3 linked regions of the Homo sapiens genome follow. The protein of the gene in region 2 purifies or fractionates together with the protein of the main gene of each other region. This does not show direct contact. Each region holds a gene or a part of one and is shown on either strand. Other genes may lie near its edges.

What was found.
Region 1: the proteins of LUZP4 (region 2) and POLDIP3 purify together in Homo sapiens (affinity purification with mass spectrometry, with the first as the bait; one large-scale study listed by BioGRID). This does not show direct contact.
Region 3: the proteins of LUZP4 (region 2) and KIAA1671 purify together in Homo sapiens (affinity purification with mass spectrometry, with the first as the bait; one large-scale study listed by BioGRID). This does not show direct contact.

What each region holds. Positions count from the first base shown.
Region 1 is NC_000022.11:42,612,722-42,616,469, forward strand, and holds the start of POLDIP3 (polymerase delta-interacting protein 3), read right to left. Parts: upstream 2,163-3,748; 5' UTR 2,137-2,162; coding exon 2,078-2,136; intron 2,059-2,077; exon of another isoform or gene 1-2,058. UniProt on the Homo sapiens protein: Is involved in regulation of translation. Is preferentially associated with CBC-bound spliced mRNA-protein complexes during the pioneer round of mRNA translation. Contributes to enhanced translational efficiency of spliced over nonspliced mRNAs.
Region 2 is NC_000023.11:115,296,195-115,299,842, forward strand, and holds part of LUZP4 (leucine zipper protein 4), read left to right. Parts: intron 1-3,648. UniProt on the Homo sapiens protein: Export adapter involved in mRNA nuclear export in cancer cells. Binds and enhances the RNA-binding activity of the nuclear RNA export factor NXF1. Can restore mRNA export function in cells compromised by loss of mRNA export adapters.
Region 3 is NC_000022.11:25,025,577-25,029,224, reverse strand, and holds part of KIAA1671 (uncharacterized protein KIAA1671), read right to left. Parts: intron 3,593-3,648; 5' UTR 3,441-3,592; intron 1,281-3,440; 5' UTR 1,226-1,280; coding exon 1-1,225.

The sequences.
Region 1 (3,748 bases), on a different chromosome or scaffold from region 2:
AGGCTGAGACAGGAGAATCACTTAAACCCAAGAGGCAGAGGTTGCAGTGTGCCAAGGCTGTGCCACTGCACTCCAGCCTGAGCAATACAGTGAGACTCCCTCTCAAAAAAACAAACAAAAAAAACCCTTCTCACATTTAATCCCGCTCAACCAGGAATCACCATTCCAAGTGAGGAAACTGCCTAGTTCAGAACTCCCCTGGCCAGGGAAACAGAACCCAACAGTGGCAAGTGCCAGGTGTATCCAGCTGCAAGGCCCCTGTTCCTGTGGATCCACACATAACCACCCCCCATTCCTGCAGCCCCACCTACTGCCCAACACAAAACTCTGCACACACTAAAACCAAAAACATAGAGATCAAATAGACTACAGTGCAGTCCACCTGCAGTCAGAAACTGGCGGAGTGACCTCAGAGAGAGAAGAACCTGGGGTGGATCATTCTGTCGTTTCCAAAGGAACCTACAAAACGTGGATGGACTTAGAAGTGGCCAGAGGAGCCAGCACCAGCTTCACATCAGTCACTAGATGGAGATCTGAGAGAGCTTTCACAGTCAGTAGTTGAGGAAACAAATACTAATGTGTGCCCGTTACGAACCACAAGCCAGGTAAGTGCTGGCTGCGAATTATGAGGTGGTGGTGGCAGTTGTAGTTGATACAAGTGTCCAGGATGGGGAAGGAGGTGAGGGATACATTTCAGACATCAAGAGAAAAACCTAACCACAGGCATACGGGTGGTATTAATAAACATCTGCGGAATGGCCGGGCCGGTGGCTCACGCCTGTAATCCCAGCACTTTAGGAGGCCGAGGCGGGAGGATCACCTGAGGTCAGGAGTTCGAAACCAGCCTGACCAACACAGTGAAACTTCCATCTCTACTAAAAATACAAAAATTAGCCGGGCGTGGTGGTGCACACCTGTAGTCCCTGCTACTTGGGAGGCTGAGGCAGGAGAATCGCTGGAACCGGGGAGGCGGAGGTTGCAGTGAGCCGAGATGGCACCACTGCACTCCAGCCTGGGCGACAGAGCAACACCCCGTCTCAAAAAAAACATAAAAATAAAAATAAACATCTGCTGAGAGAACAAATGTCTGAGAAAACAATATCTAACATATTTACATCCTGGCTATTTACAAAGACATTTAAACTTAATGTGTGTTGGGAAACTATTGGGCAAAGTTCTCACTTCTTCATACAGATGAACTCAGCTCACGAAGGCTTGAAATGACTAACAACATTTAAGGGTCTAGGGGAAGTTTGGGAGACATGACTGCAAATCACCTCCATGGCTCCTCAGCCAGCTCAAGCACTTTCTTCTCCCTAAGGAAATAACCAATCTCCTGCCCAACACACCAGTTTTTCAAGCCCATGTAGGAGGCCAACTCAGCCAGCAATTAAATCGCGCTCAGCCCGCCGCTCAGTTCTCCGTGGCCTCGGGCAAGTCACTCTACCACTTCCAGCCTCAAGTTCCCCATCAGTAAAAGGTGGGTAACATGAATAGCTAGCAGACAACAGGACTGTAAAAGATTAAATGAGGCATCGTGTATATGAAAGGGCTCAGAAAACTTAAAACGCCGCACAAAGAGAGGCGAGTGTTAACAGGGGCCGCGTGCAGGGGGATTTGGGCTTGCGCCTCAGCTTCGGCGGTCGGAGCAAGTCACTTCCCCGCTACTAAACTTCGGTTGTCTCAACTCTAAGATGGGTGGAGACCAGGCAGCGCCGAGATCACGGAGCGGGGCCCAAATGCCAGTCCACACAGGCAAGGAGGCTGCGCCGCCGAGACCCCAGGACCCCGGAACGCGGGGGCCCCAGGGGGCAGCCCCTCAGGTCCACGAGGCGGCACCCTGTCCCCGCCGCGGCCCCGTCGGCCTCCCAGGGCCGCCAGAGGGACTGCGCCTCGGCCAGTGGGCGGGCGGTCGGGGCCACGGCGGGGACGGCGGCAGCCGGCCAATGAGGAGCGCGGCTGTGGTCGGGGGCGGGCGCACCCGGTCCTCCGCGTCGCTCCCGGATCGCTACCTCCCCCGCCTCGAGCTCCACTAGGCCGAGGACCCTAAACCCCGAAGAAAGGAAAGGCCTCTCACCGTCCTTTCGCCGCCGCCCCGCGCTTCCTGATGAGTTCGTCCAGGGAGATGTCCGCCATCTTGCTCCGCCGAGCAAGCCGAAAGCAGTCGAGACCCCGCGAGCCCGCCCCTTCGGCCGCTAGGGAGCGACGAACTACTTCCGGCGTCCGCGGACCAACTCTCGCGACAGCCAGCTCAAAGCAGGCAAGAACCGGAAGGGGCGGGGACGTTCCCCGTGAGCCTTCGCGGTGCTGGCTGCTCATCTGCATACGGAAGTTCGGCACATTATGAATTATTTATTTTCCTCGAGGGAAAAAATTAAATGAAAAGCAACAAAATACATTATTAACAAGTGAGACAAACTTCAATGGAACTGGATCATGACCTCAACAGTCAACTACGATAGTCATCATACGCCTAATGAGAATAGAATTCATTACCTAGGAAATAAACTAAAAACGTCCTTATGCCTTAAACTTATGAGTAAGGAAAATAACGATTCGGGGTGACGCCCGAATCCTCACTGCTAATGTGAGACGAATTTTTGAGCGGGTAAAGGTCGCCCTCAAGGTGACCCGCCTACTTTGCGGGATGCCTGGGAGTTGCGATCTGCCCGACCTTATTCACGCCTAAAAAGTAGACTGACTGTGGGGTGGTCGTGTTTTTTGTTTCTTGTTGGTAGGTGGTGAATGCGTTTTTTTCGTTGTTTTCTCCGTTACTCAGGCTGCCAGTTGCTTGGCAGTCTTGTCGCTGGCTGTGGACGCTCTGCACTTCATCACCGTCCCCAGCTGCGCTTTGAGCCGGTCTAAGGTTGCCCACAGTATTGACGTTGGGACCCACGAAACTGGCAATTTCCATGTGTGCGGCCTTACCCAGTTCTCCCAAACTTCTGCGTATAACCGCTTCTCTGTGCTTCAGAAAGATAAGTCCGGCCCCGGCCTCACACAGCAGCTCAGTTCGTGACAGCGTTTAATATGTAAAATGGAGCAAATAATTTATAGGGCGTTGGGAGAGTTAAAGAGACTAATTCATTTACGTGTTAAATACAGGGAATGGCTTTTGCATTGATATAACCCCAGCCTCCAGCATGCGCCAGACCTGACGTAGGTGTTCGGCACATATTTTGTCCAATCACTCTAAAAATACACTCCATGCCCTTAGAACAGGTGGGGTTATGTCCTCTTGGCCATCAGGCATCAGGAGCTCCGTGCAGAAACTGGGTAAGAGGCCAGGAGCGGTGGCTCATGTCTGTAATCTCAGCACTTTGGGAGGCTGAGGCGGGTGGATCACCTGAAGTCAGGAGGTCGAGACCAGCCTGGCCAACACGGAGAAACCCCGTCTCTACTGAAAAAAAAAAAAAGAAAGAAAAAAATTAGCCGGGCGCGGTGGCACGGCCTGAAATCCCACCTACTCAGGAGCCTGAGGCAGAAGAATCGCTTGAACTCGGGAGGCGGAGGTTGCGGTGAGCCGAGATCGCGCCATTGCACTCCAGCCTAGGCGACAGAGCAAGACTCCGTTTCAAAAAAAAAAAAAAAAGAAAGAAAGAAAGAAACTGGGTAAGAGCGATCCTGCAATCCTCCTGCCTCAGCCTCCTGAGTAGCTGGGATTACAGGCCCGCCCCACCACGCCGGGCTCCTTCCCAGACCTCTTTTCCTCACCCATAGAACGGGACCATTAAGCCTTTCCTCCCTT
Region 2 (3,648 bases):
ATAAGTATACTTTTCACAAGAAAATTAATTATGCAATTTAAATAAAAATGTAATTATTCATATGGCACCTCAAGCAGTGTGATCAGTTTTAAACTGTGTGAGGAATACTGTCTTTCTTCAGTCCTGACAGTTTATTTCTGAGAGTAAGTATATCAAGAATTCAAATTTAAGGCTCTTTGGTGAGGCCTGGATCAAATGTCTCTCCTTGAGAGATTGGCTAAGTGTTCTCTAGGTGGATTCAGTGGAGAATATCATTACAGAGAGCAGAATGAACAAAGCCCCGTGTCTCTGTAATGATATATTCTGAGAACTAAGGAAAAGGACATGAGAATCTGCAAAAATACTGTAGCATTAAGGACGCTTTCTTCATAACCTCATAGCCTATGTTGGAAGGGCGTTTAGACAGCTTACCCAGGTTCATAGGCATTTGCTTTCTCTTCAATATGAAGAGGCTGAGCAGCAATTTGATTTCATCTCTAAGTCGTAGCTGGTGAGATCTACCCAATTCCATTACAATCCAACAAATCAAATGGTGGTCTCTGGAACTACAAAGTCTAAGGATTAAAATTACGTATGATTTCACTTAAAGAAAAACCTTGCAACACATTCCAAGGTGTGGATAATTCAAAAACATTTTTAAAAATAAGTTTTATGCTGGGCGTGGTAGTTCACACCTATAATCCCAGGAGATGTCAGCCATTTCAAAGAAAATCAGAATCAGATTTTTTTCTTATTATTGTAATTGTTTATTATTTATTTGTAATTTTTGTGGGTATATAGTAGGTGTATATATTTATGGGGTACATGAGATGTTTTGATACAGGCATGCGTGCAATTGCAATGTGGAATAAGCACATCATGGAGATTATCCATCCTCTTAAGCATTCATCCTCTGAGTTACAGACAATCCAATTACGCTCTTTATTTTAAAACATATAGTTATTATTGACTATAGTCACCCTGTTGTGCTATCAAATAGTAGGTCTTATTCATTCTTTCTATTTATATTTTATTGTACTACCTATGTATTGAAAAGTTGTTGTAGTTATTTTTTATTGGTTCATCGTTTAGTCTTTCTACTTAGGATGAGAGTAGTTTATATACCACAGTTACAGTATTATAATATTCTGTGTTTTTCTGTGTACTTACTATTACCAGTGAGTTTTATACCTTCAGATGATGACTCATTACTCATTAATGTCTTTTCTTTCTGGTTGAAGCACTCCCTTTAGCATTTTTTGTAGGACAGGTCTGGTGTTGATGAAATCCCTCAGCTTTTGTTTGTCTGTGAAACTTTTTATTTCTTCTTCATGTTTGAAGCATATTCTCACTGGATATGCTATTCTAAGGTAAAGTTTTTCCCTTCAGCACTTTATATCAGCCCACTCTCTCCTGGCCTGTAAGGTTTCCACTGAAGGGGCTGCTGCCAGACATATTAGAGCTCTTGTTTGTTATTTGTCTCTTTTCTCTTGCTGCTTTTAGGATCCTTTCTTTATCCTTGACCTTTAGGAGTTTGATTATTAAATGCCTTGAGGTAGTCTTCTTTGGGTTAAATCTGCTTGGTGTTCTATAACCTTCTTGTACTTGGATATTGATATCTTTCTCTAGGTTTGGGAACTATTTTTTTTTTCTTTGACAGAGTGTTGCTCTGTAGCCCAGGCTGGAGAGCAGTGGCGTAATCTCGGCTCACTGCAACCTCTGCCTCCCAGGTCCCCGTTAAGCAATTCTCCTGCCTCAGCCTCCTGAGTAACTGGGATTACAGGTACATGCCACCATGCTCAGCTAATTTTTGTATTTTTAGTAGAGACGGGGTTTCACCATGTTGGCCAGGCTGGTTTTGAACTCCTGACCTTGTGATCCGCTCACCTCAGGAACTTCTCTTTTATTATCTCTTTGAATAAACTTGCTCTGTCACCCAGGCTGGAGTGCAGTGGCACTCTTGGCTCACTGCAACCTCAGCCTCCCAGGTTCAAACGATTCTCCTGCCTCAGCCTCCCAAGTAGCTGGGATTACAGGTGAGCACCACCACACACAGCTAATTTTTGTGTTTTTAGTAGAGGTGGGGTTTAACCATGTTGGCCAGGCTGTTCTCAAACTCCTGACATCAAGTGATCCACCTGCCTCGGCCTCCCAAAATGCTGGGAATACAGGCGTAAGCCACCACTCCCAACCCCTTTGAATAAACTTTCTACCCCTATCTCTTTCTCTACATCCTCTTTACAGCCAATAACTCTTAGATTTGCCCTTTTGAGGCTATTTTCTAGATCCTGTAGGTGTGTTTCATTGTTTGTTTGTTTTTTCTTTTGTCTCCTCTGATTGTATATTTTCAAATAGCCTTTCTTCAAGCTCACTAATTCTTTATTTTGCTAGATTTATTCTGCTATTAAAGGACTCTGCATTCTTCAGTATGCCAATGGCATTTTTCCAGTTCCAGAATTTCTGCTTGACACTTTTAAATCATTTCTATGTCTTTGTTACATTTATCTGATAGAATTCTGAATTCCTTCTGTCTTTGCTTGAATTTATTTGAGTTTCCTCAACACAGCTATTTGGAATTCTCTGTCTGAAAGGTCACATATCTCTGTTTTTCCAGGACTCGTCCTTAGTGCCTTATTTAGTTCATTTGGTGAGGTCATGTTTTCCTGGATGCTGTTGATACTAGTAGATGTTCTTCAGTGTCTGGGCATTGAAGGGTTAGGTATTTATTGTAGTCTTCACTGTCTGGGCTTCTTTGTACTCATCCTTTTGGGGAAGGCTTTCCAGATATTTGAAAGGACTGCAGTGTTGTGATCTAAGCAGTTTCTACTTTAGGGGACATCGCAAGCCCAGTAACGCTATGGTTCTTGCAAACTCATAGAGGTACCGCCTTGATGGTTTTGGACAGGATCTGGGAGAATTCTCTGGATCACCAGGCAGAGACTCTTGTTCTTTTCCCTTATTTTCTCCTAAACAAACAGAGTGTCTCTGTTCTGAGCCACCCAGAGCTGGGGTGGAGTGACACAAGCACCCCTGTGGCCGCCACCACTATGACTGTGCTGGGTCAGACCCGAAGCCAGCACAGCTCTGGGTTTCACTCAAGGCCTGCTGCAAATACTCCCGGCTACTGCCCAGCTTGCTCAAGGCCCTGAATCTCTACAATCAGCCAGTAGCAAAACCAGCCAGGCCTGTGTCCTTTCCTTCACGGTGGCAAGGTCCCCCAAGCCAGAGGTGTGTCCAGAAGTGACATCTGGGACTCAGGACCTAGAGTCAAAAACCTTAGAAGTCTACCTGGTGTTCTATTGTATTATGGCTGAGCTGGCACTCATACCACAAGATGCAGTCCTTCCCACTCTTCCCTTCCCTTTCCAAAGGCAGAGGAGCCTCACCCCATAGCCAGTCATCCTAGGCCAGGTAGAGTACTGTTGGACTACCATAGATGTTCCCTTGAGGCTCAGGGGCTCTTAAGTCAGCTTGGGATGAATGCTGCCTGGTCTGAGACTCACCCTTCAGAGCAGTGAGCTCCCCTCTGGCCTAGGGCAGTTCCAGAAGTGTTATCCAAGAGTCAAGTCCTGGAATCACGGATTCCAAGAGCCCACTTGGTGTTCTACCCTTCTGTAGCTGTGCTGGTACCTGAAGCCAGCAAGTCTCGGAGTCTCATCCAAGGCTCTC
Region 3 (3,648 bases), on a different chromosome or scaffold from region 2:
TTCCCAGCCTGGGTGAGGGGGACTCAGCAGCCTTCTCTGGCTCTGGGTCCAGCTTGGCCTTTTCTTCCCAGGGACTCTGGTCATTGCTGGGGGTGACCCCAGATGAGCCCCCCACCAGGGCTCTGGGGCTGCCCATCTCCGGCTTCGAAAGCATCTTCTCCTTCCGTTCACGGATTTTCTTGGCCACCTCCAGGAAGTCCAAATCAGGATCATGAAGAGGAGCCTCCGCCTTGACCAAACAGTCCCTGTCCAGCTTGGACGCTGCTCTGGGCCTCTCTAGCCCAGCCATATCCCCTGCTGTGGGTCCACTTCCTTCATCGGCCACCTTCCTCAGCAAGGCCTCTTTGTTCTCAAACCGGGCCGTGAGGTCCATGGACAAGGGCCTGGGCTTCCTCACCCACGTCTTCTCGGGAGGGGTGGGTGGCACTTTGCCCACTGTGGCCGCTGCGCCGGGGCCTGGCTTCTGAGGCTGAATGGACTCCGTGAAAATGGCAGACACGGGCCTTCTCTTCAGGCGAGGCCTGGGCTCCACAAGGGGGCGTGCCGTGTCCTCCACACTGCTGGCCTTTGAGGGAGGATGGTCTTGGCCTGCCTCCTCTTGGGGTACAGGTGGTTTTGTGTCCTGAGACAGGGGAGCTGACCGGGGAAGGGTCCCCGCAGGCTTCTGGGTGGGCAGGGCGGGCTTGGCAGCCACCTCAGGCCGGGAGCCGGACACACCTAGCTTGGCCTCCTCCGCCCCCTCACTAACCGCCTTCCCCAGAGCGGGGCCGCTTTTGGTGGTTTCGAAGAGAATCATGGTGCTGGAGCTGGGCCGCAGGAACACAGCCTTGTTGAAGAGGGGCGAGCTCGTCCTCGGGCCCTCCCCACTGCCCACCTCCTGCCCCACCAAGCCGGGCATCCTGTTGTCCAGATCCTTTGCTGCTGGCTCCTCAGAGAGCCCCCCAGAGGGGGAAGGTCCAGTCGAACTGGGCCGCAGAGACGGGACAGGAGATTTCACGTCCTGCTCCTTCGAGAAGGGTTTGGGGGCGAGCCTTGGCAGAGGGAGTAACCGGGCCGGGCTCCGCAGGGGGCTCTTCGCTTCCAAGATCCGGGCTGGGGGAGCCCCAGAGGCTTCGCCGGCCTGGAGGAAGTAGGTCCTCGTCAGGGTCTCCTCCTTGCCCATCTCACCCAGGCCTGGCACGGCCGTCAAGGGCGTTATGGAGCCCACCTCGACCCGCGTGGCCATGGTTATGGTTGTGGATTCATGGGGGTTAGGAACTTCAAGAATGGAGAAGCAATTGCTAAACAAACAAAACAAACAAACAAGTAAATTTGGAAAACAGTCAGTGTCTGGGTTGAAGCAGAATGGTTTAGAGAAATGGGACAGAGTCCTGAGCCCCAGATTCCATACGACAGCCCTCTGCTGACCTCACCCGGCAGGCTTGGGCCTGCCTCTCCCCGTCTCTGAGCTCTGGACGAGGGGAGTGGACTAAACGCCCATCCCTGAAGTTCGTTCCAGCTCCAAGGGTGTAGAAAAGGCATCAACACTCTGGAGGACTTTCCCCTGACAGCTAATCTAGAGGCCAGCACTTAATGGCAAAAAGCAGTGATCTCTGCTACACAGATAAGGAAACCAGCTCAGAGAGGCCAAGTAACTGGAGTCACCCAGGAAGCAAGAGGCGAAGTCAGGACTTAAAACCAGGTTTGACACCAAATTCACACCACACATGCTCCTCCCTGAATAGGCCTCAGTGGGAGCGTCCTCACATTCCCTCACTCCTGTTACCCTGTTTTCCCACTGCAGAGCCTGCCCACATCCCAGGTGATCCTAATCACAAGTGTGTGCTAAGCATCTAGCACAGAGAAGGCAAGTAACCTGCTGCAGGTCACACAGCAATGCAGCTCAGGAGTGCCTGGGAGCACAAAGCTGGTTAGTGACCTTGGAACCCATGCCCTAGGCACCAACCCCACCCAATCATCCCTTTGTCCCTTTTCTTTCCCCTCCCCCACCCTTCCAGATGCCATAAAAAGAAGCCATTCTCATTTTTCTCACTCAACCTGCTTTCATTATTTGTTTGCTTTGTGGTTCTTTTCTGTTGAACACGCATATTATGCTGACTGCCTTCATACTCTTAATAGAAAGAGAAACGCCCAACAGTGAGGTCTTCCCATGAGTGAGATCTCGAGCTATGCCACATGCTTCTTGTGTTTTATACATCTCATCCTCCTCACAACCCTATTTAGTGGGTACAATTAGGAGACCCCATTTTGTAGTAGCTTGGGGCATAAGCCTCTTGTTCACCCTGCTATGAGATCTGTTTTCGCAAAGCAGGGGACCTCCTCTCTCATTAACCCTCCAGCAACTCCAAAAGTCAAGAATGAAGGAATGATCGTTATCTCCCTCATGGAGATGAAGGGAAAGGGCCCAGAGAGGTCGCCAGACTTGCCTACGATCACCCAGCTGAAACCTAACCTCAAGTCCACCACCCACTTAGCTCTGTCTTTTTTTTTTTTTGAGACCAAGTTTCACTCTTGCTGCCCAGGCTGGAGTGCAATGGCGCGACCTTGGCTCACAGCAACTTCTGCCTCCCAGGTTCAAGCCATTCTCCTGCCTCAGCTTCCGGAGTAGCTGGGATTACAGGCATGTGCCACCACGCCCAGGTAATTTTGTGGTTTTAGTAGAGGTGGGGTTTCTCCATGTTGGCCAGGCTGGTCTCGAACTCCTGACCTCAGGGGATCCGCCCACCTCAGCCTCCCAAAGTGCTGAGATTACAGGCTTGAGCCACCACACCCAGCCTCAGCTCTGTCTTTTTAAAAATTATTTTTTATTCCTTTCTGGTCTTAAAAAGTGCCAGGTAAGTTGCTGTTCTCGATCCCCCAGGCTCTCTTCATGCCAGTGTTTTCTTCCCTGTGAAACTGCCCCCAGCCAGCCCCCACCTAGATGGACTAAAAAAGTAGAAGGTATTTTAGTTAAACACAAGCCTCTCCACTTCCCTTCCTTGGGGCCCCACACTGCTCCCCCGGCTCTGACTCACTCAGCAGCCTCCAGGAAAGAAAGGCAGACAGATTTTGATATTTTCTCTTCCTTACACGCTCGATGGTGCTAACAGATTCCATCTCCCCAAACTGGAGAACACTGTCTAGACACGGTTAGAGGTAGAATGGAGGGACAGATATGAAGAATCTGAGAATTGGAGAATTTCCATACACAAAGATCCCAACCAGAGTTCTAAGGCTCCAGAATCCCACCCAGAATCAGGGCCATTGGCCTTTTGGGAGAGCAGCTGTGACCTCTGGAAACCCTGATTGAGGATACATATGTAATAGCCAGGACATGAGACACAGAACAATGACAGGATTCAAAGGACAGAGAGAAAATTCTCTGGCAGAACTCACAGGCACTCTCCATGCCCTTGGACACTCCAGCCCTCAAGCTTGGGTCAAGCATGGGCCCCACTTACCCAAGCTGGCAGGCCCTGGGTCAGGGGGTGTGACTGCCGGGAAAAGCCAGTAGTGTCACATGTCATCATGAATGGGGCTGTCCACACACTTCCATGGCAGAAACAAGAAGGGGGAAAGAAGACTCGTCCCAGCAGGCTGAGTTTCAGCAGGTCTAAGGAGACACAGGATGACAGCCTCAGTTCCGGAGTTCTGGCAGTATGGGAACAG